Linked DNA regions of Homo sapiens: region 1 is reported to be linked to region 2. Evidence: microRNA targets listed by miRTarBase, many of them from high-throughput screens and not tested one by one. Region 2 holds a microRNA gene; the other region holds the end of a gene's coding sequence.

Region 1 (4,284 bases), not on the chromosome of region 2:
GATTGAAAAATGTTTGTATCAAAGTTGTAATATGAGGGTACAGAAGAGTCAAGTGAAATGAAAGGAAAAGAAGAGGGAAAGAGCCAGAGGGAATATTGTGGGTTTTTCACAATATTGGTTCCACTTTTTCAACTTCTTCAGTTGAATCAAAGGTCATAAATTACGTGAAATAAAACAGGGCCATTTATAAGAGATCCAAGTTTGAGAAATTTCTTAGACCTGTGTAGTTAGAAAAAAGCAATCTCTAATTATATTTACCTATAGAGTTTATGTTCTCCAGATGTGTGACAATTACATAGTACTTGGACAGTATCCAAGTATGATAATAAACTGTCTGAAATTGGCCTAATCTACATTTAACCAAAGTGTATATATTGTGGGTTTGTAAAAAATTGTTATTTTTTTTTATGTTTTGGGTGTTTAGGCTAGACAGCAACAAGCAGAATTGGCCCAACAGGAATGGCTTCAAATGCAGCAAGCTGCCCAACAAGCCCAGCTTGCTGCTGCCTCAGCCAGTGCATCTAATCAGGCGGGATCTTCTCAGGATGAAGAAGATGATGATGATATCTGAAATTCACCAGCTGAGTTTCTATTTCTTCTATAAATGTTTTTCCCTGCACAACAAAAACAGTGAAAGAAATGCTTATCTGTAATTTTGTATGCATCTTGGTGGACTTGTCATTGGTATTCTAGGGATGTCTGCTATTAAGTTTCATCTATTGTGTGCTATACATGTAAAAACTGTCTCTTTGAACTATTGAAAATTTAAGGTTCAGTATAATATCAATTTTGAATTTTTAATGGTGTTTATGAAATTTTAGATAGCAGCGAGTCCTTCGTTTGATCAATAAACAGTGTTACAGATAACTTCAAGTTTATAAAAATACAGTGAAATTTCTACAAAGCTCTAAATCTGCATTTGCATTTCCTCTGCCCTTTTAACTAAACTAAAACTTGTGAATTTTAAATTATTAAGGGGGGGGTGCTGTGTGAATCAGTAGACATTGGATTGGGTTGGTGAAAGAGTTCAGTTCTGTAGTATCTGAATTTGTCTTTTAAAATGAGTACATATATAGGCAATAAATATATATGCTCAGATCAATATACTTGTTTAGAAAAACTTCAAGACATTCAAAAACTAGGAAGGAGTATGTTTAATAGTATTTGTATAAATTTGGTGGTTATGTTTTTTTATTTTGTTTCTGTTTTGTGTAGAGGTAAAAACTATAGTTTTATTACAGCATAATTCATTTTGAGCTCCACTATGACATTTCAAAGACTGCCCAGTTTGGAAGTCTGTCATGATTTTTACTCTTTCACTCCAATTCAGTAATTGTTGATAGTATTACTTACCTAGTCCATCCATACTCATATTATTCAAATATATAGGTGGTACTTTTGAAACAATTACATTGGTTCTCTTGGTTTAACTGAGGTTTATGAATATTCAAACCTTTGCTGGGGGAAAGAAATGAAAGTTAATGAGCATGCTTGCTATGAGAGAGGGATTTTTAATTTAACTTGTAGTTATAGTTTACTTATTGTTTTTAGAATTACTTTTACATTTTCCCAACTAGATGGCCTAGAGTCCAACATTACCTTTTGAGATGACATTATTGTCTCCATAATTGAGTGATAGCTTTAAAAAAAAGATTAGTTTTGCTTAAGAAGTTATGTTACAACTGATCAGCCCTATATGAATTAACTGATCAGCCCTATATGAAACATAAGTTGTGTTATAACTTATCAGCCGTATATGGAACATAAATAGTTTCTACCTGCTTGTTAGAGAAGCTTTAATTTGGTTCTAATAAATACAGTATGGTAGTGTTTATAGGAATCCAGGATGTTGAAGAAATGGCATAATGTCTATATTTTGGAAACAGAAAGGAAAAGTCACTTAAGATAGTATTAAGTAATTAAATTCCTATGTCAGTTGCCAAATCTTTTAAACTTATGTATTCACCAAGCCCAAAAATAGATTGTGGCTCCCAGGATTCCAATTTTAATTGGAGAGCTAAGTAAGTAAAGTTTTATAACTGTTAGGTTTCTTAATGATCATATTTTGCAGTTTTAGTAAAAGGGAAATATTGTTATACATTTATTAAATATACTTCCCCCATGAAGTGAAAAGGTTAATTTTGCTGAATGTTTTAAGTTGAAGTTACTTCATGGATGTCATACCCATGAAGTGCATTTGGATGAGATAGAAGAAATTGTTTTTTAAAAAGTTTAAGTACCAAAGGTAGTCTAGTCTAGAACGATAAGTTAATACGTGTTGGCTTTTCTAATTTGTACTGTAACATCCTTATACTTTCTATTTTAAGTATATCTGTTTCTTAAGTAAACAACTTAGATATTTTCCACACCTTTTTTTTTTTTTCTGATGCAGAGTTCAGGTTAATATTTTACTGCATCTGATAATGTATTATACGTTTGAAGCCTAGTGACTTTTCATTTTGACATTCTTGTGATTTCATATGCTGTATTCTTCAAGCAATAAAATTGTGATGTGTTTTATAAATGGTTTTTATATTTAATGTTCTATAGAGAGATTTCTATTATTACCATTTTTACTATTTTCAAGAATCTTAGGCCCAAAAGACATTTTGGTCATTTGGTATGTAGTACCTGCCTTTTGTTTTTGTTTACTGTTATTTCAAAAAATGTGGTTTTACTTGTATTTTTATAATTTACAGTCCTAAGATCGAGGCATAACAAAGCTTACTTATGCAATATTTTATTTTTAGGTTTTTTCTTTTTTTTTTTTTTTTTTTTTTTTTTTTAGCATTTAAGAGTCACTATTATGTTTTGCCAGTTAAAATTTTTTAAATCTTTTGAAGAGAGAAACAAAATCTTCAGCGTTCTTGAGAAATAAAATTATTGTTCAGTAAGTATTTTTCCATCCCCTTGAATATATGTTATATATTCTTTTTCGGCAGATTATCAGATTAGTAAGTGTTTAAAAGGCATCAGTTTTTAAAACTGCATATACCACACACACACAAAACAGTACACAAATAAAGGTTTTCACAAATTAAACAAACTCACATACTAGTCTTCAGATCAAAACACAGAGCATTATGTGTACCCCAGAAGCCCTCCTCTTTCCCCATCTTAACACTGTCTTCTTTCTTGCTGAAAGTTACTATCCTGACTTCTAAAATCATAGATTAGTTTTGCCTGTTTTTTATTTTATGTAAATGTAATCATACATAATACACTTTTTTTCATTCATCATTTTTGTGAATATTTTAGTTTCTTGTTGCCACTGTAACAAACTACCACAAACTTAGTGACTTAAAACAACACAGATTTATTCTTTTATAGTCCTGGAGATCAGAAGTCCAAAAATCAGTTTCATTAGGCCTAAATCAAAGTATCAGCAGGGTTGGCTCTTTATTGAGGTTGTGAGGGAGAATGTTTTCTTCCCTTTTTTGGCTTCCAGTGACGGCCTGTATTTATGGGCTTGTGACCCCTTCCTCTCTATGATCAAAGCTTGCTTTTGTCATTATATCATCTTCTCTTCTGTAGTCAGATCTTTCCCTGCCTCTAAGTTTAGGGCTCACCTGCATAAAGCAGGGATAATCCCCCTATCTCAAGATCCTTAATTTAATCACATCTGCAGAATCTCTTTTGCCATATAAGTGACATTCACAGGTTCCAGGGATTCATACGCTGGCTATCTTTGGAGGCCGTTATTCAACCTGCCAAAGTGAGATCCATTCTTATTGTTGCATGTATTTGTAGTTCATTCATTCTCATTGCTGTATAGTCTTCCGTTTGTTTATCCATTTTTCATTACATCCAAAAGTTATTCATTCTCCCATTAATAGTCTTTTGAGAATTTTTCAATTCTGAGCTATTATGAATAGTACTGTGTAGAACATTCTTATACATGTCTTTTGGTGAGTGTATACATTTCCATTGAGTATAAACCTAAGAATGGAATTGCCAGGTTGTAGGGTGTGTATATTTTCAGTTTTAGTATTTACTGTCAAACAGTTTTCCAAAGTGACTGTAAGAAGGCACCATTTTAATGTGTAGCATAAAAATGAATTACGCTAATGATCTTAGTGGGTTGAATTTCTCGAAACACCTAAATTGTACCAAATGAGTTATATTGCAGCAGGTATGTTGTTAATTTCATATAACAGGAAAATAAGAGCAAAAGTAATTGCCCTTATTAACTGACACATTAGTATTACATACTCATTAGGTTATTGCTCCTTAGAAAAAATGCAAATTTTAAGTAATCGTAAGTAGTATGTTGAATTAGTATGT
Region 2 (4,523 bases):
CCACGAGCTACCACCACCACCAGCAGCGCCCCGAAAACCGGAACTGGCCTCAAATGTACTTTTAATTCTTTTGCTCTGTCCCCACGCCCTCTGCAACTTTTGTTCTCCAACTGTACTTGTTCCGGTATGAAACCTGGCAAATAGCAAAAATCTTGAAACAAGAAGAGAGTGAGAGAGCGGAGAGAAAAGGGAGGGAAGGAAGGAGAGGGAGGAGGGGAAGAGGAGGAGGGGGGAGAGAAAGTGGTGGGGGAGAGAGAGAAGGAAAGGAGGTGGGGAGAGAGAGAGAGGGAAGACAGAAGAGAGGCAGGGAGGAAGAGGGAGAGAGGGGGACGGAGATGGGGAGGAGGCGGGAGGGAGGGAGAGAAAGAGAGAGAGAAACATATTCTGCCACCCTCCTGGCTAACTGAAATGCTTGTTCCCGAGATTACAGTAATTACTGCCCCAGCATGAGTTCCATACAAGCGCTAAATGAAACAGCACATCAATTAAAAAATAAACACTCCATTCTAGGAGAAAGACAGCCCCCTGGGACGCCCTAACAAGCGTAAATGAACCTGCCAGGCCGCCGGCCCGGGCCGCCCGCAGCCCCCCTCCCGGCCCGTCTTAAGGTGGCGGCGGAGCCGGCGGGGGCAGCGTTCGCTGGCGGTGGCCCAAGCGGCTGCTAAAAGCAGCCCGGGTCCGGCTCCGGCCTCGTGCAGAGAGCAGATACGTGTCGCGGAGTCCACGCCAGAGCGCAGCGCCGCCTCCCACCAGAGAAAAGGAGGCTCTGGCAAAAGCCTGTGAACTTGGGATGGATGAATAGACGTCCTGAAAGAACGAAGGGAAGACAGGGAATCCAGCCCCAGAGTTTCCAGCCTGTCCTATTTATAAGTTTCGAGGTTTGTTTTGAATTTTAGAAAGAAATTGAATGATTTTTCCTAAGAAAGCACGGCGGCTCGGGGCTTCCTATATTTTATCTCACCTAATTATCAAAGCCCCCTTGGAGATCTGTGCTATGATCACCCAACTCTCTAGGTGGGGAAACTGAGGCTCCCCCAGGTCACGCAGCGGAGGCGGGAGGAGAGTCTCTGGCGGGCATTTGTCCCCCGCGCCCCTCGCGCGCCCAAGGCTGGGCTCCGGGGCATCTCACCCGGGCCGTCCCGGGTCCAGCCCCAGTTTAGAATGACTCCACACCCCCCACATCTCCAAGTCTCAGAAACCATCGTTCTGAGAACCCCAAGGAGGACACCCTTTCCCGGGTCTTCTGCAGCGCCGAGCCCCGGCAGGCCTCCCCGGCGCTCGCCTGCTGCGAGACCTTCCTGCCGCCCCGAGGAGCACGAGACCCCAGCCGCCTGCAGATCACCCACATTTGCGGAGGGTGGCAGCAGGGGCTTGGCTGGTTTGAAACGCGCCGGGGAGGCGCGCGCTGCACCAAACCCCGTCCCTGTCCCCAAGGGCAGACTCGGGGTAAGGGGACCAAGACCTCCGACGCACTCAGCGCCATGGGGACAGCCATGGCCAACACTCTGTCTCTGCGGTCAATCCCAAGGTTACCAAAACTCTCCATCCGCAGAGAGCGCGCACAGCAGTGCGGACACTCGGGGACTGCCTTAAGGAAGGCTGAGCCCTGGGAGCGCGTGGACTCCGCCCTACCGCCCGGCGATTGGCTCGCGGGGCTGGGGGCGGAGACCGAGTCCGCGCTGTATAAATATTCATGAGCCGGCAGCGCGGCGCGAGCGGGGCTGGAGCCGGGAAGTTGGGCTAAGGGCGCTGCTCCCGCCGAGGAGGAGGCGGCGGCTGGGCGCGGGCCGCGCCACTCAGGTGTCCGCTCCGCCTTCCGGTCTGGATTTGCTCCTGGGTGTCCAGCAGGAAGGAGACTGTGTGCACCTCGCCCGACTGCGGCCGGAGCGCGGCGCTGACTTTTCCAGGCGGCGGGGGTCCGTCTGTCCCGGCGGCGGACGGACGAAGGACGGACGCCGGAGAAAGAGGGCGGCGGCCTGGGCCGAGGCGGGTCCCCAACTCCGGCGGCGGCGGCGGCGGCTTGGCCTTGGGGGCGGGCATGAGCCCCCGGGGGCCGAGTGGTGGCCGCCAGGGCTGACCCGGCGCGGCAAGCGGCCCGGCCCAGCCATCTTGACTGCGCACCGCGGCCCCAGAGGAAACTTGCGGCGCCTCCGCCCTCTCTGTCCGGCGGAGTCACCGCCGCCCGGCGCGGCGGGGAGAAGTGGTCGGGCGCGCGGAGAGGAGGCGAGCGAGCGCGGGACGATGAGCCGAGGCCCGGCCGCTCTGCGCCGCGAGGGCTGAGCGCGACCCGGGGCCAGCAGAGCGGACCTACGGACTGTGGCGCGCGCCTGCAGCCGCCTTCAAACCCCCGGAGCGGCGGAAAGGAGTGCGGAAGGGCCCTGCCCAGGCTGCGGGCCGCGCCGCTGCGGACGCGCCCCTAGAAGGGGTTAGATTATCGGCAGACCCCCCTCCCGGGCGAAGCATAAGGGAGACCCCAGATCACCCGCTGTACCCGTCTGCGGCTCTCTCGTGGGCCCCCCCCCCGGCACCCCTCTGCGCGCCGCCTGGAGGGCGAGGGCACCGGGCCGAGGCGCACAGCATGGAGTGGGGTTACCTGTTGGAAGTGACCTCGCTGCTGGCCGCCTTGGCGCTGCTGCAGCGCTCTAGCGGCGCTGCGGCCGCCTCGGCCAAGGAGCTGGCATGCCAAGAGATCACCGTGCCGCTGTGTAAGGGCATCGGCTACAACTACACCTACATGCCCAATCAGTTCAACCACGACACGCAAGACGAGGCGGGCCTGGAGGTGCACCAGTTCTGGCCGCTGGTGGAGATCCAGTGCTCGCCCGATCTCAAGTTCTTCCTGTGCAGCATGTACACGCCCATCTGCCTAGAGGACTACAAGAAGCCGCTGCCGCCCTGCCGCTCGGTGTGCGAGCGCGCCAAGGCCGGCTGCGCGCCGCTCATGCGCCAGTACGGCTTCGCCTGGCCCGACCGCATGCGCTGCGACCGGCTGCCCGAGCAAGGCAACCCTGACACGCTGTGCATGGACTACAACCGCACCGACCTAACCACCGCCGCGCCCAGCCCGCCGCGCCGCCTGCCGCCGCCGCCGCCCGGCGAGCAGCCGCCTTCGGGCAGCGGCCACGGCCGCCCGCCGGGGGCCAGGCCCCCGCACCGCGGCGGCGGCAGGGGCGGTGGCGGCGGGGACGCGGCGGCGCCCCCAGCTCGCGGCGGCGGCGGTGGCGGGAAGGCGCGGCCCCCTGGCGGCGGCGCGGCTCCCTGCGAGCCCGGGTGCCAGTGCCGCGCGCCTATGGTGAGCGTGTCCAGCGAGCGCCACCCGCTCTACAACCGCGTCAAGACAGGCCAGATCGCTAACTGCGCGCTGCCCTGCCACAACCCCTTTTTCAGCCAGGACGAGCGCGCCTTCACCGTCTTCTGGATCGGCCTGTGGTCGGTGCTCTGCTTCGTGTCCACCTTCGCCACCGTCTCCACCTTCCTTATCGACATGGAGCGCTTCAAGTACCCGGAGCGGCCCATTATCTTCCTCTCGGCCTGCTACCTCTTCGTGTCGGTGGGCTACCTAGTGCGCCTGGTGGCGGGCCACGAGAAGGTGGCGTGCAGCGGTGGCGCGCCGGGCGCGGGGGGCGCTGGGGGCGCGGGCGGCGCGGCGGCGGGCGCGGGCGCGGCGGGCGCGGGCGCGGGCGGCCCGGGCGGGCGCGGCGAGTACGAGGAGCTGGGCGCGGTGGAGCAGCACGTGCGCTACGAGACCACCGGCCCCGCGCTGTGCACCGTGGTCTTCTTGCTGGTCTACTTCTTCGGCATGGCCAGCTCCATCTGGTGGGTGATCTTGTCGCTCACATGGTTCCTGGCGGCCGGTATGAAGTGGGGCAACGAAGCCATCGCCGGCTACTCGCAGTACTTCCACCTGGCCGCGTGGCTTGTGCCCAGCGTCAAGTCCATCGCGGTGCTGGCGCTCAGCTCGGTGGACGGCGACCCGGTGGCGGGCATCTGCTACGTGGGCAACCAGAGCCTGGACAACCTGCGCGGCTTCGTGCTGGCGCCGCTGGTCATCTACCTCTTCATCGGCACCATGTTCCTGCTGGCCGGCTTCGTGTCCCTCTTCCGCATCCGCTCGGTCATCAAGCAACAGGACGGCCCCACCAAGACGCACAAGCTGGAGAAGCTGATGATCCGCCTGGGCCTGTTCACCGTGCTCTACACCGTGCCCGCCGCGGTGGTGGTCGCCTGCCTCTTCTACGAGCAGCACAACCGCCCGCGCTGGGAGGCCACGCACAACTGCCCGTGCCTGCGGGACCTGCAGCCCGACCAGGCACGCAGGCCCGACTACGCCGTCTTCATGCTCAAGTACTTCATGTGCCTAGTGGTGGGCATCACCTCGGGCGTGTGGGTCTGGTCCGGCAAGACGCTGGAGTCCTGGCGCTCCCTGTGCACCCGCTGCTGCTGGGCCAGCAAGGGCGCCGCGGTGGGCGGGGGCGCGGGCGCCACGGCCGCGGGGGGTGGCGGCGGGCCGGGGGGCGGCGGCG

The links. Region 2 holds the annotated microRNA hsa-miR-4683 (UGGAGAUCCAGUGCUCGCCCGAU, at 2,805-2,827, shown strand). A microRNA usually pairs through its seed, bases 2 to 8, with sites in the 3' UTR of a target mRNA and lowers its output. Matches are read on the target gene's strand: a 7mer-m8 pairs with bases 2 to 8, a 7mer-A1 pairs with bases 2 to 7 and ends in A, and an 8mer does both.
Region 1: the mRNA of DR1 is a reported target of hsa-miR-4683. The part of its 3' UTR that is shown has no 7-base or 8-base seed match.

The regions. Positions count from the first base shown.
Region 1 is chr1:93,360,069-93,364,352 of GRCh38, forward strand. It overlaps DR1 (down-regulator of transcription 1), which reads left to right. Exons shown (of 3, transcript NM_001938.3): 3 at 425-4,284. The coding sequence ends at 571. Among named protein-coding and RNA genes, the nearest start is that of DR1, 16 kb to the left of the region's middle.
Region 2 is chr10:35,639,485-35,644,007 of GRCh38, reverse strand. MIR4683 (microRNA 4683) reads left to right here and starts at 2,756; the gene lies at 2,756-2,836. It overlaps FZD8 (frizzled class receptor 8), which reads left to right and starts at 1,712. Exons shown (of 1, transcript NM_031866.3): 1 at 1,712-4,523. The coding sequence starts at 2,579. LOC124902528 (zinc finger protein 469-like) reads left to right here and starts at 1,162. Exons shown (of 2, transcript XM_047426128.1): 1 at 1,162-1,378; 2 at 1,595-2,280. The coding sequence starts at 1,162. The coding sequence ends at 2,280. It overlaps LOC105376494 (a long non-coding RNA gene), which reads right to left and starts at 693. Exons shown (of 2, transcript XR_930820.3): 1 at 1-693. RefSeq lists silencers at 3,164-3,253, 3,793-4,087 and enhancers at 3,364-3,523, 4,343-4,523.